Linked DNA regions of Homo sapiens. The protein of the gene in region 1 purifies or fractionates together with the protein of each later gene. This does not show direct contact. Each region holds a gene or a part of one and is shown on either strand. Other genes may lie near its edges.

The links.
Region 2: the proteins of ANXA9 (region 1) and ACP3 purify together in Homo sapiens (affinity purification with mass spectrometry; one large-scale study listed by BioGRID and IntAct). This does not show direct contact.
Region 3: the proteins of ANXA9 (region 1) and CRYBG1 purify together in Homo sapiens (affinity purification with mass spectrometry; one large-scale study listed by BioGRID and IntAct). This does not show direct contact.
Region 4: the proteins of ANXA9 (region 1) and PADI3 purify together in Homo sapiens (affinity purification with mass spectrometry; one large-scale study listed by BioGRID and IntAct). This does not show direct contact.
Region 5: the proteins of ANXA9 (region 1) and CLMN purify together in Homo sapiens (affinity purification with mass spectrometry; one large-scale study listed by BioGRID and IntAct). This does not show direct contact.

What each region holds. Positions count from the first base shown.
Region 1 is NC_000001.11:150,988,153-150,992,959, forward strand, and holds part of ANXA9 (annexin A9), read left to right. Parts: coding exon 1-34; intron 35-130; coding exon 131-189; intron 190-4,807. UniProt on the Homo sapiens protein: Low affinity receptor for acetylcholine known to be targeted by disease-causing pemphigus vulgaris antibodies in keratinocytes.
Region 2 is NC_000003.12:132,322,605-132,327,411, forward strand, and holds part of ACP3 (prostatic acid phosphatase isoform PAP precursor), read left to right. Parts: intron 1-4,807. UniProt on the Homo sapiens protein: A non-specific tyrosine phosphatase that dephosphorylates a diverse number of substrates under acidic conditions (pH 4-6) including alkyl, aryl, and acyl orthophosphate monoesters and phosphorylated proteins.
Region 3 is NC_000006.12:106,358,545-106,364,130, forward strand, and holds the start of CRYBG1 (beta/gamma crystallin domain-containing protein 1), read left to right. Parts: upstream 1-2,172; 5' UTR 2,173-2,364; coding exon 2,365-2,537; intron 2,538-5,586. UniProt on the Homo sapiens protein: May function as suppressor of malignant melanoma. It may exert its effects through interactions with the cytoskeleton.
Region 4 is NC_000001.11:17,272,406-17,277,212, forward strand, and holds part of PADI3 (protein-arginine deiminase type-3), read left to right. Parts: intron 1-934; coding exon 935-1,042; intron 1,043-2,229; coding exon 2,230-2,381; intron 2,382-4,113; coding exon 4,114-4,258; intron 4,259-4,368; coding exon 4,369-4,471; intron 4,472-4,807. UniProt on the Homo sapiens protein: Catalyzes the deimination of arginine residues of proteins.
Region 5 is NC_000014.9:95,197,909-95,201,408, reverse strand, and holds part of CLMN (calmin), read left to right. Parts: intron 1-3,500.

The DNA.
Region 1 (4,807 bases):
CATGGAGATGCTCAGGTGGCTCTGCTCGGCCTAGGTAGGGGCCTGCTCAGGATTTGTGAAGTAAGTCTCTCTTGGGATGGGAGATTGTGGTCCTAGTTGTGAACCTCCATCCTTCCATCTTTGTTTCCAGCTTCGGTGATCAAGAACACACCGCTGTACTTTGCTGACAAACTTCATCAAGCCCTCCAGGTGAGAGGGGCACTCCTTTCCCTCCCCAGAACAGAAACTGGGGAGGAGAGAGGAAGTCTCAGCTTGCTGCTTATGTAACCATCCTATATACACCGTCTAAACCTCAAGCCGCTCTCCTTCCCAGGGCTTACACACCAGGGCTTACACAGGGGTGGAGGAATGAGCTGTGGTGAGAACTAACTTAGTTGGCTCCCAGGGGCCCTGAAACTAACATTTTGGCCTTGTTAATGTCTAGGTGGCCAAATAGAGATATGAATCTGCTCTGTAAGACAGTGCCTTGTGCAGGCTTAGTTGTTGCCAGAGTGATGGTGATAACACTAGCAAGAATAATGACAAGGGCTGGCATTTTGCAGGTGCTGATTGTGTGCCACAGCCTATCCTGAGCAGGGCACACATATTTCAATTAATCCTCACAACCATATCCATCCGTATCTTATAGATGAAAAAACTGAAGCCCAGAGAAGTTAAGTACCTTGCTTGAGGTCACGTAGCTAGTAAGTTATACAGTCTCCCTACACAACACTTCACGATGTAAGATATTGACCATCCTTGTCAGCTATACGATAAGTGCTCTTAGCACCCAAGGCCCCCTTTCTCCACGCTGGTCAGATTTTGTTCCACATTATCCATACTTTTTTTTTTTTTTTTGAGATGGAGTTTCACTCTTGTTGCCCAGGCTGGAGGCTGGAGTGCAGTGGCACAATCTCGGCTCATGGCAACCTCCGCCTCCTGGATTCAAGCGATTTTCCTGCCTCAGCCTCCCAAATAGCTGGGATTACAGGCGCCCGCCACCACATTATCCTAATTTTTTGTATTTTTAGCAGATGCGGTTTCACCATGTTGGTCAGGCTGGTCTCAAACTCCTGACCTCAGGTCATCAACCTGTCTCGGCCTCCCGAAGTGCTAGGATTACAGGCGTGAGCCACTGCGCCCAGCCCATATTATCCGTACTTAAACTGCTGACTGTGGCTTGAGTGCTTCCACCAATAGAATCCAGTTATTCTGTTGATTGAATTAGGTCTCCTATTAGTAGAACTGTCCCCCAAAATCTATAAATAAAAAGTTCAGGAAGGGCGCAGTGGCTCACGCCTATAATCCCAGCACTTTGGGAGGCCAAGGTGGATGGATCACTTGAGGTCAGGAGTTCGAGACCAGCCTGGCCAACGTGGTGAAACCCTGTCTCTACTAAAAATACAAAAATTAGCCAGGCATGGTGGCAGGCACCTGTAATTCCAGCTACTTGGGAGTCTGAGGCAGGAGAATTGCTTGAACCTGGGAGGCGGAGGTTGTAGTGAACCAAGATCACGCCACTGCACTCCAGCCTGGGTGACACAGTCAGACTAAAAAAGTAGTTATCATTTTGGCAGATGGAATAGCTTTCTGTAGACTGGTTGAGAAGCCATCATGCCATGTTGATGATTGCCCAAAAGTTAGTAAATATAAGCAATTGTTCTGTCATCTAGAGATTTCTATCTTGACAGTAGATTATTATACTTGCCCAATAAAGCCTGTATGATTATAATGAGTCAACACTAAGATTCATTTGAAGAGTTGTACTTATCTGTCCAAATTCCTGTCATAAATACAAACTATCCCAGCAGTAGATGATTTTGTAGTGTATTTGGATTACAAGACCCACACTCTTGAGTGTAGATAAAAGATTTATCTTAGAAGTAGTAGTCAGGGGCCAAGCATGGTGGCTCACACCTGTAATCCTAGCACTTTGGGAAGCTAAGGTGGGAGGATCGCTTGAGGTCAGGAGTTCAAGACCAACTTAGGCGACATAGCAAGAACTCGTCTCTACAAAAATAAGAAGAAAATTTGCCAGGCATGGTGGCACCTGCCTCTAGTCCCAACTACTCAGGAGGATGTGGTGGGAGGATTGCTTGAGCCCATGAATTAGAAGTTACAGTGAGCTGTGATTACTCCACTGCACTTCAGCCTGGGTAACAGAGCAAGACCCTGTCTCAAAAAAAGAAAAAAAGAAGTGGTAGTCAGAAAATAACATAGGCCCATTTTTCTGAAAAAAAAAATTTTTTTTTTGAGATAGAGTCTGGCTCTGTTGCCTAGGCTGGAGTGCAGTGGCGTGATCTCAGCTCACTGCAGCCTTCACCTTCTGGGTTCAAGTGATTCTCTGGCCTCTGTGTCTTAAGTAGCTGGGATTACAGGCGTAGGCCACCATATCTGGCTAATTCTGAATTGTTTCTAAAAAGGAAAAACTCGGGCTGGGCGCTGTGGCGCATGCCTGTAATCCCAGGACTTTGGTAGGCTGAGGCGGGTGGATTATTTGAGGCCAGGAGTTCAAGACCAGCCTGGCCAACATGGTGAAACCCCATCTCTACTAAAAATACAAAAATTAGCCAGGGGGTAGTGGTGAGCGCCTGTAATCTCAGCTACTTGGGAGGCTGAAGCAGGAGAATCTCGAGCCTGGGAAGCAGAGGTTGCGGTCAGCCGAGGTGACGCCACTGCGCTCCAGTCTGGGTGACAAAGTGAGACCTGCCTCAAAAAAAATAAATAAACAGGCCAGGCGCGGTGGCTCATGCCTGTAATCTCAGCACTTTGGGAGGCCAAGGCGGGCGGATCACGAGGTCAGGAGATCGAGACCATCCTGGCTAACAAGGTAAAACCCTGTCTCTACTGAAAATACAGAAATTAGCCAGGCGTGGTAGCGGGCGCCTGTAGTCCCAGCTACGCTGGAGGCTAAGGCAGGAGAATGGCTTGAACCCAGGAGGCGGAGCTTGCAGTGAGCCGAGATCGCGCCACTGCACTCCAGCCTGGGCAACAGAGTGATGCTCCATCTCTAAAAAAAAAATAATAATAATAAATAAATAAACAAATATAAAATAAATAAATAAGGAAAAAATCATGATACATCTGTATTATTCTTTTTATTTATTTTTATTTTTATTTTTTTAGATCGAGTCTCACTCTGTCGACCAGGCTGGAGTGCAGTGGCGCGATCTCGGCTCATTGCAACCTCCGCCTCCCGAGTTCAAGCGATTCTTCTGCCTCAGCCTCCCGAGTAGCTGGGATTACAGGCGCTCACCACCATGCCTGGCTAATTTTTGTGTTTTTAGTAGAGACGGAGTTTCACCATGTTGGTCAGGCTGGTCCTTAACTCCTGATCTCGTGATCCACACGCCTCAGCCTCCCAAAGTGCTGGGATTACAGGCCTGAGCCAAGGTGCCCGGCCTTCTTCTTCTTCTTTTTTTTTCCTTTGAGATGGAGTCTCACTCTGTCGCTAGGCTGGAGTGCAGTGGCACGATCTTGGCTCACTGCAACCTCCACCTCCTGGGTTCAAGCAATTCTCCTGCCTCACCCTCCCAAGTAGCTGGAACTATAGTTGCCCGCCACCACATCCGGCTAATTTTTTTGTTTTTAGTAGAAACAGGGTTTCACCACGTTGGCCACGCTGGTGGCAAACTTTTTTTTTTTTCTTTTTTAAGATGGAGGCTTGCTCTGTCACCCAGGCTGGAGTGCAATGGCGCGATCTTGGCTCACTGCAACCTCTGCCTCCTGGGTTCCAGCAATTCTCCTGCCTCAGCCTCCTGAGTAGCTGAGATTACAGGCGCCCGCCACCACGCCCGGCTAATTTTTGTATTTTTAGTAGAGACAGGGTTTCACCATGTTGACCAGGCTGGTCTCAAACTCCTGGCCTCAGGTGATCCACCAGCCTCAGTCTTCCAAAGTGCTGGGATTACAGGCGTGAGCCACCGTGTCCAGCCTGTATTATTCTTTTATGAGAGATATGTAGATATATGAAAACATAAATTGTGAAGAATATTTATTCAGAAAAACAACCTTCAGAAAATCAGCAATGGCTGATTCAGGACAAATTTCCACCAATCTGTAGTAAAAATTAATGTTCCTGGTGAAGATCCTAGGGCCATATGCAATGCCAGGTATACGATTAAGTATTATAATTAGGCCAGGCATGGTGGCTCATGCCTGTAATCCCAGCACTTTGGGAGGCCAAGGCAGGTGAATCACCCGAGGTCAGGAGTTCGAGACCAGACTGACCAACATGGTGAAACCCCGTCTCTACTAAATATACAAAATTAGCTAGGTGTGGTGGTGTGCACCTGTATTTCCAGCTACTTGGGAGGCTGAGATAGGAGAATTGCTTGAACCTGGGAGGCAGAGGTTACAGTGACCTGAGATCGCACCACTGCACCCCAGCCTGGGTAACAGAGTGAGACTCCATCTAAACAAACAAACCATATATATATATGCTGAAGCGAGCAGATCACTTGAGGTCAGGAGTTTGAGACCAGCCTGGCCAACATGGTAAAACCCCACCTGTACTAAAAATAAAAAAATTAGCTGGGCGTTTGGCACATGCTATAGTCCCAGCTGCTTGGGAGGCTGAGGCAGGAGACTTGCTTGAACCTGGGAGGCGGAGGTTGCAGTGAGCTGAATTCACGCCACTGCATTCCACTCTGGGTGACAGAGCAAGAAAAAAGAATACTTGTACAACAATGAGAGTATTCAGTTAATGAGTGACTCTTGCCCAATTCTGTAACTTTAGAGTAACAAGCGTTGGAAGAAGAGAAGAATGGATACTGGGGAGCAATTGGCAATCTTTATGACAATACAAAACTAATGATGCATAAAAGTT
Region 2 (4,807 bases), on another chromosome or scaffold:
ATGATGTGTCTCCAATTCCAAACCTGAAAGGAGAACATGATGGTTTATGAGACTTCAATCCAGTCTGGAAGCAGACTCACTGTTCTAGAAGCAAAGGCACAAATGAATAGGATAGAGACTGCTACAATTTGAATGTTTGTCCCCTCCAAAACTCATGTTGAAACTTAATCCCAATGTAACAGCCTTAAGAGGTGGGGCCTTTAAGAGGTGATTGGGCCATGGGGGCTCTACTCTCCTGATGGATTAATGGATTAACAGATTAATGGATTAATAGGTTATCACAGAAGTGGGTGAGTTATCATGTCAGTGAGTCTATCATAAAAACCATTTTGGCTCTCAGTGTGCCCCTTCTTGTCCTGTCATGCCTTCTGCCATGTTATGACACAGCACAAGGCCCTCACCAGAAGCTGACTAGATGCAGCTGCCTGATCTTGGACTTCCTAACCTCTAGAATTGTGAGCAAAATAAACCTCTTTCCTTTATAAATTTCCCAGTCTCAGGTATTCTGTTAAAGCAACAGAAAATGGGCTAAGACAGAGGGGAAAGACAAGAAGATGAAAGAAAGGAAAAAAAAAAAGCACACATAGCACACCTTGCTGATAAATAAGGATGATGATCAAAAACCCTCATGAAATGAGAAGATTGGAAAGAAATCCATAATGTACCTGGAAGTACTAGACCCAATCCGAGATTCACCTGTTCATCAGAACAGGCCTTTTTTGCATATTACTATGTTCCAGGCACTGTTTTGGGGTTATAGCAGTGCTTGTGACAGCAAGGCTTCTGCTTTCAAGGAGTTTCTAGGGACAGGGAGGGAGCCAGATTTTTTTTAATTTTAGTAAAAACAAAAAATAAGAAAACATCAGGAATATTTATTTGAAATAAAACAGTGAGATAAGATAGAGATTGAGCAAGAATTATAATGATGGTCAAGGGATGTCTCTCTGTAAAGGTCAAATTTTCAGGACAGACCTCAAATTGATGAGTGGTGTGTATGCTGAGAGAAGACGCAGACTTGAGACATTCAAAGCAGACAGGACATCAAGAGCAAAGGCCCTGAGGCTTCAGCAAATTTAGTATATTGGATGTAACAGCAGGAGGGCCCATGTGGGTAAGCTGAGGACATCAAGGTGAGAATATCAAGGTGGGTAGGGACCAGATCAGGTAAGATCTTGTGAGCCCTTGTAAGGACCTTTAATTTATGCAAAGAGCAATAGAACATGATATAATATCTAAGAGTGATGAGGATATAAAAGAAACAAGACTAGCCACATACAAGTTGATAATTGTTGGAGACAGTGGTGGGCTCATGATAAAAATCTCCACTTTTAGGCTGGGCACAGTGGCTCACGCCTGTAATCCCAACACTTTGGGAGGCCAAGGCGAGTGGATCACCTGAGGTCGGGAGTTCGAGACCAGCCTGGCCAACATGGCGAAACCCCGTCTCTACTAAAAATACAAAAATTAGCCAGGCGTGGTGGCAGGTGCTTGTAATCCCAGCTACTTGGGAGGGTGAGGCAGGAAAATCACTTGAACCTGGGAGGCAGAGGTTGCAGTGAGCCAAGATCATGCCATTGCACTCCAGCCTGGGCAACAAGAGCAGGACTCCATCTCAAAAAAAAAAAAAAAAAAACTCCACTTTTGTATATCTTTACATTTTCCACTGGATATAGCCTCGACTGTACTCACCAGGTTCTCCACACCCTAAGCCACATGCCAGATTTGTTTAGCAGATTCAGTGGAGCAGGTTCATTCATGGGGGCACCAAACCAAAAGTCCTTTTAAAAACAGTTACCTATGATTTAAAAGTGTGAAGTGATTGTAGTATGATGGGGAAACAGTGGGCCAACTATCATGAGAATTAGGAGATCTGGACAGCTACATGATCTCTTTGATCATATAGTTTTCTTACTTGCTCAGTGCAGCAGTAGTGCCAACCTGTCCTCAGACGGGGATGTAATAATTAAAAGAGGTAGCAGGGGAAAATTCTACAAACCATGGAGGGTTGTGCAAATGTAAGGAATTATTATTTTTTTTTATTTTTATTTATTTATTTTGAGACGGAGTCTCACTCTGTCACCAGGCTGAAGTGCAGTGGCACGATCTCGGCTTACTGCAACCTCTGCCTCCCAGGTTCAAGTGATTCTCCTGCCTCAGTCTCCCGAGTAGCTGGGACTACAGGCATGCGCCACCACACCCAGCTAATTTTTGTATTTTTAGTAGAGATGGGGTTTCACCATGTTGGCCAGGATAGTCTTGATCTCCTGACCTCATGATCCGCCTGCCTCAGCCTCCCAAAGTGCTGGGATTATAGGCATGAGCCACTGTGCCTGGCCAGGAATTGTTATTATCTTGGATGTCTTTCTATTACAATTACCACTACTACTGCAAAAATCCTAATTGCTAATAAAGTATTTTTAGGTTTTTAAAGGATTTCATAGAGTATGATTGCTGGACTGAGCACAGAGGTAATAATTGGTAGAGCAGCAGTTAAGAAGATTGCTCTACCACAGAATTAAAAGAATGTCTTCGCATAGTCCAAGAACTCCAGCTGAATTTTGAAACTCCAAAAGCTCAAGGAACACCAGCTTCACATTTGCCTGCGGGAGGGGTGTGTGCACACATTTTGATTTCCAGCCCTGGAAGTGGAGAATGGTTTATTAAGTGTTTCTCCAGGACATCCCTTCCAAAGGGTTGACAGCATGTTTGAGCAACTACCTTGGAAACACTTAAAACCTACTGAAATGTAGGGGAGTACAATTATTTCTGAACTATGGGCCAGAGTGAGAAAGTTTGCCCAAGTCTCATGATTATGTTCCAGTTCTCTGCTCTTCAAAACACTCTGCTAAGGTGACCACACTTGTTTTTCTCTCTCAGGCCATTCTGTCATTTAGTTGCATAACCTCAGTTCTATTCTTTCAATAATATACATAGTTCACAGTGCCTTCGGGGTAGTTTCCGTATCAAGGTTTTGGTTTCTTCTGATACAAAACACACACACACACACACACACACCCCTTCCAATCCTAGAGGAAAAGAGTATACTAAGTAGAGTTAATAAAGAAGCGTTAGATCCCAGACCATTCAGATTTAGCTGGTGGGACTGTGAGGAGTGTGATCATACAGAAATGAACCTCTCACAGGTGGTTAAGTATGCTGGAGTTGGAGGCACAGCCTGTGTTTGAATATCAGCTCTACCACTTCTTACATGCTGTGTGAGTTTAGACAGGTCACTTAATTAAGCTAAACTTCCTCATTTGTGAAATGGAAATAATAATAGTAACTGCTTTGTGGAACTGATGAGAAGATTACATCTATGAGAAGCACTTAGCACAGTTTCCAGGACAAAGTGAGTGTTCAAAAAATGTTAAGGAGTTACCGTTGTGGTTATAGGTTGGTGGGAAGCAATGTAAATTATTTTATTACAATGTCTCTCACCTGACTTCTCTTTGGCTAACTCAGTGGCTCTCAACTTGGGGTGATTTTCTGCCCCTATGGCAGAAAATGTGCCTTTTTCAGTTGTCACAGCTGGGGAATGTTACTGGCATCCGGTGGGTAAAGGCTAGGGATGCTGCTAGACATTCTACAATGCACAGGACAACCCCCACAACAAAGAATTATCTAGCCCAAAATGTCAACAATGCTGAGGTTGAGAAGCCCTAGAAACTAAAACAGTGTGGGGTTTGTAATTTATTGAAACCATGTAACAACTTTAGTTATTCAAAGACACATTTACCTGGGATATAAAAACTCTAAAATGTACTTCAATTGTGGAAAGAGGCATCAATGATTAACCATAATCATTTCTGATCATGACCAAGTCACCCCTGAGACTAGTAACTGCAGGTGCTCACAAAAAAATATGCAGCTGTCCTTCCTGCCTTCAGGGGATCATTCATGAAAGTAATTTCTCACCTGACCAAAATGATCGCTTAACATTTATTGCATCATTGCCCCTGTTTCTGTAGACTACTCTACCGAAGTTTTAATTTGTCACTAGTTTAAAGGGCCAAAAGATCTGTTTTCTTCAGATATTAGAGACACAAACCAAGCATCTCCCACTTTCTTGGAATTCCTTCTCAAAAATGACTAAAGTCTGAGACTGTTTTCTTATTTAATGTCTATTGAATTCTGTTTTACAGAATTTCAAAAGAGCAGGTTCTTAGCTTACTTTTCAATGGAACATTTTAGCCAGGTAGTATAAGTACAGGTGCGGGTAACCTCAGATAAATCAAGGTGTTATGCAGCTGTCTCTATATTAAAAATATTTGCTGACATCAGTGTAGACTTCATCTTGTAGTTCTTCAGTGTTTTCTTTCCTTATCTTTTGCTCATAAGATGGCTTTGTGTTTGGTTTGATATTATACTGAGAAAGCATATTAGAATCAAAGCACCAAGATTTCAAAAGTCCAGACTACTCTTCCCAAAGAGAAATGTGCAATCACAATAGCATGACATGGGTACAAATATAGAAGTATGTTATTAAAGTATTGAGAATTAGCTTTCCTAACCTCCCCACCTGCAATCTTTTACTCCTAATCTCCAAAAAATGAACAAATCATTGGCTCAAAATGGTCACAAATTGTATGTGGTGTTAAAAATCTATTATTTTTATTGTATATAAAATGTTGCCAGGTGTGGTGGCTCATGCCTGTAATCCCAGCACTTTGGGAGGCCAAGGCAGGTGGATCACTAGGTCAGGAGTTCAAGACCAGCCTGGCCAACATGGTGAAACCCCATCTCTACTAAAAATACAAAGATTAGCTGGGTGTGGTGGCGTGTGCCTGTAATCCCAGCTTCTCGGGAG
Region 3 (5,586 bases), on another chromosome or scaffold:
GAAATGAATGTGTACATCTCAGAAGGTTCATATCAATTTTATTCATAATAGCCCCAAACTGGAAACAACCTAATGTCCATCCACAATAATGGATAAATGAATTGTGGCATATTCATATCATGGAACAGTATACAATAATTTTTTTAAATGAAAAACTGCTATGGGTCAGGTGCAGGGGCTCACCCCTGTAATCTCAACACTTTGGTGGGAGGCTGAGGCGGACAAGTCACTTGAGCTCAGGAGTTCGAGACCAGCCTAGGCAACATGGAAAAACCCAGTCTCTACAAATGTACCCCCTCCAAAAAAAAAAAAAAAGCCCGGTCCTGTGGTGTGTGCCTGTAGTCCTGGCTGCTCAGGAGGCTGAGGTGGGACGATCACTTGTGCTCAGGTGGTCAAGGCTGCAGTGAGTGCAGTGAGAGGTGATGGTAACAGTGTACTCCTACCTGAGTGACAGAGTGAGACCCTGTCTCAAACAAAACAAGACAAAAAACTGCTACAATATAAGCAACAATATAGATGATTTTCACCGACTAATATTGAGCAAAGCAAACCAGAAACAGAGTACATATTGTGATTTTCCACTAAAATGAAATTCCAGAAAAGGTCAAATTAATCTCCAGCAAAAGAGGATGAAATAATGGTTAACTTTTACAGGTGGGAGGGGTAATGTACTGGAAGAGGACAGTAGGGAGATTTTTAAAGTTTTGAAAGTATTCTATATTTTTATAATCATATATATTTACCTATTATTATTATTTGAGACATAGTCTCATCCTGTTGCTCAGGCTGGAGTGCAGTGGCGCCATCTCGGCTCACTGCAACCTCTGCCTCCTGGGTTCAAGCGATTCTCATGTCTCGGCCTCCCGAGTACCTGGGATTACAGGCGCACCTCCACCACCACGCCCAGCTAATTTTTTTTTTGTATTTTTAGTAGAGAAGGGGTTTCACCATGTTGGCCAGGCTGGTCTCAAACTCCTGACTTCAAGTGATCTGCCTGCCTCGGCTTCCCAAAGTGCTGGGATTACAGGCGTGAGCCACCGCTCCTGGCCTATAATCATACATTTAAAAGCCACATACGGAAGAATTTTCTAGGACAATGTCAACTCTCCATTAAAAAACTTTTCACACCCCAACCACATAAATATGTAAAAATTTGAGTTTTACCCTTATGATTTGTGCATTTTACTGTCTATAAATTACATCTTGATAAAAATGTAAATAAAAACAAATAAAAATGAATGTTCCTTGAATGAGTGAATAAACGAATGAATGAGTTGTGTTTTCAAAGAGGAAAATAAAGACATTACCGTGAAAGAGGATCTTGTACTGCATTGAATTTTTAAGTAGTGCTTAGTTCTTGCACTTTCTTTGCTCTAATGATGCCCAAAATAATTGTTCGTTTACTTACTTTGCTTAAGTATTAATTTCCTTTGCTATTTAGCCACGACTGTGAAGTTAAGACAAGAAAGTCATCAACAGTAATGCAGATGATGTAAATACCTTGTGGGACTGGCATTTAATTTACTGCGAGGGATCTATTAAGCTCTTGGGGAATTGGGGAATATGCCTAATTCCCTTCTGGCGTTTTTAATTTTTTTAATCCTTTTGTGTTTTATGAGATGTGAGTACAAATTAATTATTCAGACTCTTGAGAGAGGAGACGAGTTGGCGGAGTTGCCACCCGTGTTCACGAACAGGAACAGAAGCCACCAGCACATGACATTGCCCAAGCCACCCAGAGATCAGAGTGGAAGAGTCCTAATTGCTGGGCGGCCCAGCCCCGGGATGTGCCTCTCCCATCCTTCTCCAGGCGGGGCTCGTGGCTAAGCAGCGACTCACCCTGCCAGCCTGTCACAGGCCAAGAGCGGCCAACAACTCCGCAGGCGACAATGGCCGCTGCACCCCAGGCGCTGTGGAAGCCCGACCCGGCTCTGGGTCCCATCTTAGAGCCTGGGATGCAGTGTCGGGAGTCGCGGTGCCCAGAGCATCCAGTAGGTGTCGCTGTCCCACGGCCGCCGCGCGCCCCCGGGGTGGGGAGCCGGGGCGTGTCTGCCTCACCTGGGGCTCCCGGCGCGAGCGCCTCACCTGGGCTAGCGCCCCTTGCCGCCCGCGCCGCGCGGGGGCGCTCTTCCGCGGCTGGGTCCCCGCCTCCGCCCCAACAGCTCGGGCTGCAGTGCTGCTCGCGCTGCGCTGGGTGCTGGTTCTGCAACCCGCGGCCGTCCCCCCGCATCCGCGACGAGGGGGCGGGGTCCCACGGCGCGCTGAGAAAGGCGGGCGAGCTGGCGCTCAGGTGTGTTCTTCCATAGGGCCCGGGCGGCAGAGAGGACCGCGTCCCGGCAGTCGGAGCGGGAGGAGGACAAGACGATGCCGCTGTCCCCGCCAGCCCAGGGCGACCCCGGGGAGCCCAGCCCGTGCAGGCCCCCTAAGAAGCACACCACCTTCCACCTCTGGCGCTCCAAAAAGAAGCAGCAGCCGGCGCCGCCTGACTGTGGGGTGTTCGTTCCGCACCCGCTCCCGGCGCCTGCCGGAGAGGCCAGGTGAGCTCCTCGCCCGAGCCCTCCAGTCCCACCTCCTCCTCCTCCTCCTTCTCCTGCTGCGCTAGCCCTTGGACTCCTGACCCCACTTGGAGGAGGGGAAAGCCCCGGGGTCTGTTTCAGTCCGCAGGAGGGTACCCGGGTCCGGAGGGGAGCGATCGTAGCCGCTGGGGTTGACGAGGTTCCTCGCGGCTTTTGGTTCAGACCAAGCACCGGCGAGAGGAACTTGTGCCCACGCATGTGGCCTTTAGTATGACTGCAAAGTTTTCATGCAGGAGCCTCCCGCATCAGCCTGCTAACCAGAGCGGCGGGGAGTGAGGGTTGTTACCGTCCTAAATGATGGCGGGAACTCTGCTTTGGGGTTAGGCACTGCTTTTGAGCTAGTGTCTTTATTGTAAAGCTCTTTATTGTGAATATCTGTAAGATCTGTGCTCTTACAGATGTTATACCCCCATTCTCCTCGCAACATACGAAGGGAGGAGGAAGTGGCAGGAATGGTTACCCCCATTTCATGGGTGGAGGAACTGAGACCAAAGGATAAATGGCTTCTCCCCATTGGAGCCAGTGGCAGAGCTAGAGAGCACCTAGTTATCAAAACTGTAGTTACCATTGTGCTTTTTGATTTTTATCATGGTTTTGAAGTGGTTTTATTCTATATGTATAATTATTCAACTATAGCATCAGAGTTTATGCATTCGTTGAATAATAATCAATTTGAAGTAACAGCGTATTTACATGGCTCAGAGGTGTGAAATATTTATAGTGATGGACAATTGACAATGTCCAGTAAATCCTTCCAAATGTGTTTTTAAAATACACCCTATGAGGGCCAGAATAAAATTGTGCAAAATTTGCATTTTAGACATGGTTTTCCTTTTATTTCTTTCTTTCTTTTTTTTTTTTTTTTTCTGAGACGGAGTCTTGCTCTGTCACCCAGGCTGGAGTGCACTGGCCCAATCCCGGCTCACTGCAAGCTCCACCTCCCGGGTTCACGCCATTCTCCTGCCTCAGCCCCCGAGTAGCTGGGACCACAGGCGCCCGCCACCACGCCCGGCTAATTTTTTGTATTTTTAGTAGAAACGGGGTTTCACCGTGTTAGACAGGATGGTCTCGATCTCCTGACCTCATGATCCGCCCGCCTCGGCCTCCCAAAGTGCTGGGATTACAGGCATGAGCCACCGCGCCCGGCCTCTCCTTTTATTTGTAAAAAAAGTCAATTTTACGATCTATTTTCATTCACTTATTGTATTGAGTACCTTAGCTAAGTGCCATGTACTGCGATATAAAAAACAATGAGAGACAGGAATAATTGTGTCATCAAAGAATTGTTAGTCTCTTGTGGATACCAAAAAATGCAATGATAGATGCCAGCACACAGGAGGGGATCAGGGAGGCTTCCTGGAGGAGGATAGGTGAAGTGGCTTAGGCAGAAACAGGGAGGAGCAGCGAGTTCCAGGCAGGGGCTGCACTGTGCACATCACCAGCACTTAGAAGAGCGTGGCACTTCCTGAGAAGCGCAAGTGGTTGCAGCGGGGAGGTCTAGGTGTGAGTGGGTAAGGGTAGGAAACCTAAGAAAGAAGTCATTTTATTTTTCTCTCATATTTTATCATCCACATTGGTAATCAGTTGTAGTAGAAATATATTACCTATTCAAACGTTTACTGTGCCTAATTATAGATTATACTTTCTAACAAAATACAGTATTTAATGTACCCAACATTGAAGTTCTTTTCTATTACCTCAGTAAATATTTTAAACATTTCCATCGTGGTTTTCCTTTTAAGATCTAGTCTTATCATTTACTGTCTATCAAAACATAATAATACACAGCTATAGGTAATTTATTCAAATGTAAATACATTTTAGTATAAAATTTAAAATAGGAGGCCGGGCGCGGTGGCTCACGCCTGTAATCCCAGCACTTTGGGAGGCCGAGACGGGCGGATCACGAGGTCAGGAGATCGAGACCATCCTGGCTAACACGGTGAAACCCCGTCTCTACTAAAAATACAAAAATTAGCCGGGCATGGTGGCGCGCGCCTGTAGTCCCAGCTACACGGGAGGCTGAGGCAGGAGAATGGCGTGAACCCGGGAGGCGGAGCTTGCAGTGAGTCGAGATCGCGCCACTGCACTCCAGCCTGGGCGACAGAGCGAAACTCCGTCTCAAAAAAAAAAAAAAAAAAAAAAAATTAAAATAGGAGATTTGCTTCTCTCCTTGAGTTTTTTTATATTTTAGTGCAGTCTTGAAACACTTCATTTTTTCCTTCAGAACCGTGATGAACTTCGTATTAATAAATGTTCTGAAAAACTAAACGTACTAGTCTGTCTTTGGGATGTTTTTCTAGTTAGATCATCTTTATAAATATTTCATTTACTTCTAAGAGAGTGTACTTCTTTCTGGTTTAAAGAGAGTGGCAAAAGCACCCTTAGATTTCAAGCCAGTTTGCCCAGTGTGGCTCTCTTAAGCCTCCTGACCATATCCCTTCATTTCTGTCCAGGACTTGGAAGTGATGGAATTTGGCTGGAATGTGCAGCACTCACTGTGGTTTTTGTCTCTAAATAAGGAGGGGACAGTCAGGTAGCCACCCATATTTGCTTATTTGATTAATATTATGGGTGTTTAGGTCAGAAAAAAATGAATTTATCTACTAGCTTTGTGACCTTGGGCAAGTTATTTCACCTCTTAAAATCTCAATTTCCTCATCTGTAATATGGAGACAATAGGATGCTGACTCTGTAGGGTTGTCATGAATATTAAATGAAAGTTTATGTTATTAAGTGCAAAAACCTTAACACACTTCTGAGCACAAAGTAGAAACTCAGTAAATGCAAAAGCATCCTGGTCATCATCATCATCATCATCATCATCAAAGCAAAGGTCTAATGGAAGAAATGGAAAAGATAGGTTTGGATAGGGGAAAACCAACTCTAGGAAGATCTTTTCCTAGAAAAGTTTACCAGTCCAGCCGGGTGCGGTCACTCACGCCTCTAATCCCAGTACTTTGGGAGGCCAAAGCAGGTGGATCACCTGAGGTCAGGAGTTTGAGACCAG
Region 4 (4,807 bases), about 130 Mb from region 1:
GGGCTGGGTTTAGAGCCTGGCTGTGCCACCAACTAACTAGCTGTGAGCTTTGGGACAAATATTTTTTAATTTTTATTTATTTTTTTAAATTAATATATTTTGAATTTATTTTTCTTTTTGGAGACAGTGTCTCTCTGTCACCCTGGTTGGAGTGCCATGGCATGATCACAGCTCACTGGCAGCCTGGAACTCCTGGGTTCAAGTGATCCTTCTGCCTCAGTCTCCCGAGTAGCTGAGACCACAGGTGCAGCCACCAGGCTCAGCTAATTTTTTGTAGAGATGGGGTCTTGCCATGTTGCCCAGGGTTGTCTCAAACTCCTGGCCTCAAGCAATCCTCCCGCCTCACCCTCCCAAAGTGCTGGGATTATAGGTGTGAGCCACCGTGCCCGGACTGGATAAATAATTAGACCTCTTAGTTCCTCATTTTCCTCATCTGTCACATGGGATAATTATGGTGCCCACGCCCAGGCATGTCATGAGGATGAATGGAGTTAATGTTTATAAAGAGTTTAGGGCAGGACCTGGATGTGAAGTTCATTCACACTGGGCCATCTTTTCCTCCAGAACCAGAGGGGTCAGGACTGACCTGGGCACATTTATGGATCCAACTCAGGCCACTGTGAGTGCTTCTCTGTGTCCACCTGCCTTGGCCCAGTACTCACAGGGACACCCCCAAGGTCATGTCCATGTTCTCGTTCACCTCCGGCCTCTGTCTTGCTGTGTGACCTTAGACAAGTGCACCCCCTCCTTGAGCCTCCAGCCCCTCCTCCAGTCAGCAGGCACCCTGACCTCGGTCCTGTCCGCCTCCAAGCACAAAACATGCTTGGGCCAGGGGACTTGGTGAGCAGTCTGCCCCACAGGGCTCAGAGCCGAGCCAGCAGGGGCAGCTGTTGACTGTCACAGCTGTGCGTCTCTCGCCTCTCCTCACTTGCAGGATGAGATGGAGCTGGGCTACGTTCAGGCGCCGCACAAGACCCTCCCGGTGGTCTTTGACTCCCCAAGGAATGGGGAACTGCAGGATTTCCCTTACAAAAGAATCCTGGTGAGTGGTCCCGGCCGCAGCCCACCCCTGAGAGCTGAGAGGCCTTACCCCAGGGGCCACACCGGGGTGTGGGGTACAGAGGGCAGCAGTGGGAACCGTGCTCTTTAGGGATGAGGGTAGGGTTGCCAGATAAAATGCAGGGATGCCCAGTCAAATGTGAATTTCAGACAAGCAACAGGTTAACTTTTTGGTGTAAGTACGTCCCAAATATTGCATGGGATATACTTACACTAAAAAAGTTGTCGTTTATCTAAAATTCAAAGTTAATTGGGCATCCTGTATTTTTATTTACTGAATCTGGCAGCCCTAAATAGGGGAGGCAGGATGGTGCACCTGTTCAGAGCACAAGCTTTAGGGTCAGACCAACCCTGTTCCGTTACTTACATGCTGTGTGATGTTGCGTGAGTTACTACCGCTCTCTGAGCCTCAGTTTCCTCATCAGTAAAAATGACATTTTGGCCCTGGCCTCACAGGGGTTTGTGAAGCATCTCATCATCACAGTACCTGCATGGAGGGAGTGTGTGTGCGCGCACCACTATTAGCTAGTATCATTATTTTAAGAAAAAGGATAACAGGGAAGGTGATGATTGCTAACGAGGACCTCTTGAGAAAACAAGAGTGACTTGCCTGGTGCCGTAAAGAACAAGAGACCCCTCCAACCCCCTCACTGATCACACAGATGCTAGGAGCTCTCTCTCCTGACCCTTGATGTTGTCGAAGTTGCTTCTGAGAGATAGCCCTGGGGAGGTCTCCCCTTCTCTAGAGTTCAAAGACAGAGGCCCAGAGGGCCATCAGCAGCCTCTTGGTTCCCACAATTGGCCACTTGAGCTGCTACTTGCCCTTGGGCTGAACTTGCAGGAAGGCTGTGTAGGTAAGGGGATGGAGTGGCCATGGCCTCAGGCTCCATGTCCGATGGGGAGTGCAGGAGCAACCGGAGCGCCCCCTGCTGTCTTGCCGTGATAAGGCAGCAGGGCCAGAGAGTCCGAGCACTTCCCGACTTTGCCTGCTATGCGTGCATGAAATATTGACTGGGTCAGATCCCCCACCCACCGCCAATGACTCTGTATTTCCACCTGAAGAATGGATGGCCTTTCCCACCCTGTCTTGAAGGAGCTCAAAGCCCAGCAAGTTGGTTCAGGCCCTTCCTGGTACCCTCCACCCCCGCCTGACTTGGTTTCCCTCTCCAGGGTCCAGATTTTGGTTACGTGACTCGGGAACCACGCGACAGGTCTGTGAGTGGCCTGGACTCCTTTGGGAACCTGGAGGTCAGCCCTCCAGTGGTGGCCAATGGGAAAGAGTACCCCCTGGGGAGGATCCTCATTGGGGGCAACCTGCCTGGGTGAGAGAGAGACAGGGAATGGAGTTCCTGGGGTGGAGGCTGAGGGTTGGGGGTGGTGATGATGGTGGAGCAGGGGCCATTGCACTCCTTGAAGAGAGCCAGAAGCAAGGAATGATGAAATTATACTCCCGGATGTGCTGGGGTTGGTGGGTGTTCACCAGACACAGTCCACACTTACCTCGGGGACTCTGAAACCAGAGAGAGCAGAGACCTAAGAGATCATTCAGTCCAACACTTTCATTTTACAAGTGGGCCCAGAGAGGGTAAGTGAGTCACATAGAAAGCAAAGTTATAACTAGACTCAAGTTTTCTGATTCTGAAAATAAATAGATGATACTAGTAACAGTCAATTAATAGTAACAGAAGAAGAGTGGGCATGGTGGTTCATGCCGTAATCCCAGCACTTTGGGAGGCCAAGGCAGGCGGATCATGAGATCAGGAGATCGAGACCATCCTGGCTAACATGGTGAAACTCCGTCTCTACTAAAAAAAAAAAAAAAATTAGCCAGGCGTGGTGGCAGGCGCCTGTAGTCCCAGCTACTCAGGAGGCTGAGGCAGGAGAATGGCATGAACCCAGGAGGTGGAGCTTGCAGTGAGCTGAGATCATGCCACTGCACTCCAGCCTGGGCGACAGAGCGAGACTCCGTCTCAAAAAAAAAAAAAAAAAAAAAAAGTAACAAAGAAAAAGTTTCCATTCCCAACAGTCCTGGGAGAAAATGCATTTAGGTCAAAGCTTGTTCATACTACCATGTAAATGACTAATATAAGATCTTTTCCTGAGAGCAAGAGAAGTGAGGTACAAGACATGCTAAGTGAAATGACAATAACATACAGAGAGAGTAACAAATGATGTGTTGTTCAGTAGTGACACAGGGGTGCTGATGGAAAAGGAATCCTATCATATTGGTTACTTGCTGTGGACTAGACCAAGACATTGAGCTAACCAAATGCAACAAAGCTGTTAGAACAGACTTGGGATCAAATAATGAATGAATCCAGAGTCAAGCTTTGGAAGGGACTACTGCCCTCAAATACATAATCCCATTGAAAGAGGAAGCTGGACCATGCCCTTAGATACATTTTCGTAAAAATTGAACATGGGGGTGAAATCTGTCTCTTGGAGAATAAGAACCTGGTGTGAGGGTGGTTCTGAAGATTTTCCTGGATGGTGGGACCTGGTAGGTCATTGCCCTGGTGTGACTGACCTGTCCTGAGTCTGCCTCATGCAGAACTCACCCTAAGTGGAATTTTAAAATATACGTATCTGGCTGGGTGCAGTGGCTCATCCCTGTAATCCCAGCACTTTGTGAGGCTGAGGCGGGCAGATCACTTGAGGTCAGGAGTTCGAGACCAGCCTGGCCAACATGGTGAAACCCCATCTCTAGTAAAAATACAGAAAAATTAGCCTGGCCTGGTGGTGCACGCCTGTAATCCCAGTTGCTTGGGAGGCTGAGGCAGGAGAATCCCTTGAACCTGGGAGGCGGAAGTTGCAATGAGGCGAGATCACGCCACTGCACTCCAGCCTGAGTGACAGAGTGAGATTCCATCTCAAAAATAAATAAATAAATAAAATGAAATATACATATTTATTACTTTCCTGTTTATAAAAGTAATGCATGTTTTTTTGTTTTTTAAAAATCAGATATTGCAGGAATGCTAAACTCTTGTCATTTTATTTCTGCATGGAGTCTTTTTAGTTAAGCAACTTTTTTTTTAACCTCGTGGGTCCCAGGTCAAGTGGCCGCAGGGTCACCCAGGTGGTGCGGGACTTCCTCCATGCCCAGAAGGTGCAGCCCCCCGTGGAGCTCTTTGTGGACTGGTTGGCCGTGGGCCATGTGGATGAGTTTCTGAGCTTTGTCCCTGCCCCCGATGGGAAGGTAAGAACTTCGTGCATGACGTGTCTTTCCCTGGCATCTGGGGCAAGAACTGAGCTCCAGGGCGCCATGCCAAGGCAGGAGGCTCAGCTGAATCTGTTCTCTGCACGCAGGGCTTCCGGATGCTCCTGGCCAGCCCTGGGGCCTGCTTCAAGCTCTTCCAGGAAAAGCAGAAGTGTGGCCACGGGAGGGCCCTCCTGTTCCAGGGGGTTGTTGGTGGGTAACAGTGCCGTGTCCCTCCTTGCGGCTTGCCTGCCCCTTACCCAAATTAAGACACATCATGGCTTGAGAGGGGGAGGGCAAGTTTTAAAGCAGGGGTGTGTCCCCAAATTCAGGGCTTCTCACTCCTGCCCCTGCACACCTTGCTTCACCAGACACCACTGCCCACAGCTGGGGCCGAGCTGAGGTGGGAAGCGGGGTGATAGAAGGTGGACATGGACTGAGCGGGGACATAGTGGCTTCCCAGGCAGGTGACCAGTGCAGTCACGGCGTGGAGCTTTAATGTTCTGCAGTCACTATCCTGAAATCTCCCTTTTTTTTTTTTCCTTTTTG
Region 5 (3,500 bases), on another chromosome or scaffold:
TAGAAGGGGTCGTGGGGAATGATGGAAGGCCTTTGAGAGGGGTGGGGAGGGCTGGAAATCCAGGCCTTCTTCGCTGTGACTCCCAAGGGTCTCCAAGCTGACACGGCTGCTTGGGGGGTTGGAAGATAATTACCCCAAGCTTCAGCATCATGCAATATACCTACATAACAAACTTGCACATGAACCCCCCAAATCTAAAATAAAAGTTGAAAAACAAAAAATATATATATATATATTTTTAAATTTTTTTATTATACTTTAAGTTCTGGGGTACATGTGCAGAACGTGCAGGTTTGTTACATAGGTATACATGTGCCATGGTGGTTTGCTGCACCCATCAACCCATCATCTACATTAGGTATTTTTCCTAATGCTATCCCTCCCCTAGCCCCCGACCCCCACAGGCCCCGGTATGTGATGTTCTCTCATAACTTACCACTAACATAGGCATTAGAAAGTTAAAGAAAAAAACAGTCATCGTAGCTAACATCTAGCATGCACTTAGTGAACACTAGCCTGTTCTGCAGTAACTTAGGAGAAACAGAAGAAGCCCTCATGTTTGACTCCAGTTTTGATTTTTTTAAAGGACTTTTGCCTGTTGGGCACTAATCTTTGGTTTCTGTGGTTTGAAATTGGTGTGTAAATAGCATAAGGGGACATGCGCTCTTCTGAGCTTGAGCAGCTGGTCACATTCTTATCTGCCACTTGTGTTCCCACTTCATCTGGCCCAGTAGCTCACAAAGGGCCACTGGAGTGATCAGTGAAGGGGGGTGCCTGGGCGGCTGGCCTGATGGGGAGGCTCCTCCTGCAGATGCCACGTTAATAAGTGCTGCGTCCTGCTACGGCACTGGGGATCCAGGAGGTGAGTCCGAAACCACATTGGCCATGCCCTGCTGGATATAGTGCACACAGGGCATCCAGGGCAAGACAGCCAGGGAGGAGAAGGGCCTGGGCTCGGCCTCTCCAGCCCCTCCATGAGCTCACCTGCTTACTCATCCAACCCCATGGAAAGCGATGCATCTGGCACTGCCAGGAAGATAAAAAAAGAAGGAAAATCCTGCCTTCGGTGTCTAATGCGGGAGACAGAGTCCCCAGTAACTGTACTGTGAGAGAATGTGGCCTCAGCCATTAGAGATGGGCCCAGCGAAGGGATTCAGGAGTTCAACAGAAGGAGGCTCCCACCCAGATCCAGAAAGGCTGCATGGGGGTTTTGGGGAGCCTAGAACTGGGGAGGAAGTTCTGGGTAGAGGGACTAAGGGTAGAGGTCCCCTAAGTGCAGGAGCCAGGTGGGAAAGTGACCAGCTATTTCAGATTGCATTGGCTCTGCCTCTATCTCAGACCCTTCCCCAGTCTGTCACTGTCCCTCCTCCCCAGCTCAGCTTGCAGAGGGATGACCCTAAAGCACAAGTCTCACCTTATCACTTCCTGACTGCTGCATCCAGGACAAAGTCTAAATGTCTTAGCATGAACTCCAAGACTCTTCCCGCTCTAACCTGGCCACCCACCCCTCTTTGTCTCCCTCCCCTCTAGCCAAGCCAGCATCCTCCCACACCCCCAGACATCCAGGCTCTCCTCTGCCTCCAGGTGTGACTGGGCTGGTCCCACCATCTGGGCAAGCAGTTATTCAACCTTCAAAGTCAATGCAAATGGCACCTCCTCCCAGAAGCCCTCCGACCTCCTCCCCAGGCAGAGCCATTGCTCCCTCCCTATAGCTGATCACATTTTTGACAATCTCTCCTTGAGTGCTTACCTGATTTCCATGGGCTTTGTTTTTCTCTCCCGAGAGAGTGTGGACATTTGTGTATTGATCTTTGGATGCTAGAGACCAGCACGGTGCCTGACAGGGCCTGCCAGTGTAGGGGACAAAGGTTTATTACACGATGGTTTCGGGGGCATACAGCAAATGGAAGGTAAATGAAACACTGAGATACATGACAAAGCCCTGGCTCATCAGAGCCCAGTGAGGGGCCCAAAGGACTGGAGCTGATTGGAGGATTGAGAGAGGCTTGCACCCTGCGGGAGCTACAGAAAAAGTCTGGTTCGAGTAGTCTTTTTTAAGTTTAAGTTTATTGACAGTTGAGTAGTTGGTGTGAATGAGTGGGGTAGAAGACCTAGAAGATTAGTTGAGCCAATAAAGAGAATAAGGGAAATTAATATAAGGGATCAGGTTCGTCCTAAAAGACACTGCAGATTTTAGCTAGGCCAGAAGTGGGGGGCTGGTTTTATTCAGTTTGCCAAATCTGAGCAATGAGGAGTGGCTACCTAAGCCCTAGGAGGAGCAGCATCCTCAGGCCGAGGGCCACATGGGCAGGGCTGCACACTCCGTGTTTGCCAACCGTGGAATGGATGGGAAGAGGGCTGGATGGCTCTGCAGGTGCCAGGGACCACGGCTGCCATCTTCCCCCTCTTCCCCCAGGGAGAGGAACCCAGTCCTCCACTTGCTTCCATGGCCTGCTGTGTGCTGACTTCTCTGAAGTCTCAAAATAAATAAATAAATAAATAATAAATAAAATAAAATGATGAATTAGTGGTTTGCATCCTCCCTCCTGGCCTATTGGATGTGGCCTGTGAAAATACAAATGTGGCAGTTTGTTCTCGAATGCTTTCCTTCCAGCAATTGCCAAAAGCAGAGAGTGCATGTGTCCAGCACTTGGACAGGTGATTTGCGGTGTGGCTGAAAGAGCCCTGGGTTGCAGTGGTAGAATCGGGAGATCTAGATTTGAACTCCATCTTACATGGATCTCACTCTTGGTGAGAGCGTGGGCAGATGAGCTCCCTTGGGTGCAGTGTGGGAATGAAATCAACACCGTCTGCCTCACTTGGCTCCGGTCCGCTGCCTCACCTGCCCAGCAAGCACTGCCCACTGATCCCCAGCCCACCTTGCAATTTGCTCCCAAGTGCAGCCCTTGCCTCAATCCGTGTGGGTGAGCGTAGGGGGAGGGTACAGCCCGTTTGATGAGGAGCCCAAGGTGAGGTCTGGGAGTCTTGGGTCCTGGCAGACAAGGAGATGGGATGAGGCATTTCTCTGATACCTTGCCTTCCTTTAAAAAAAAAAAAGAGGCCAGGAGCAGTGGCTCACGCCTGTAATCCCTGCCCTTTGGGAGGCTGAAGTGGGTGGACCACCTGAGGTCAAGAGTTCGAGACCAGCCTGGCCAACATGGAGAAACCCTGTCTCTACTAAAAATACAAAAATTAGCCAGGCGTGGTGGCAGGTGCCTGTAATCCCAGCTACTCCGGAGGCTGAGGCAGAAAAATCACTTAAACCTGGGAGGTAGAGGTTGCAGTGAGCCAAGATCAAGCCACTGCACTCCAGCCTAGGAGACAAAAGCAAGACTCCATCTCAAAAAAAAAAAAAAAAAAAAAAAAGAAAGAAAAAAAGATATTTTCCCAGCCAAAGGGACTAGAAAATGGCAAGTTTTTCTTCTGATCTTGAAAAAATAAATAAGCCCTCTGCTTGTTTCATCTTTCAAAAACAGTAGCATTTGACCATTGATGAGGGC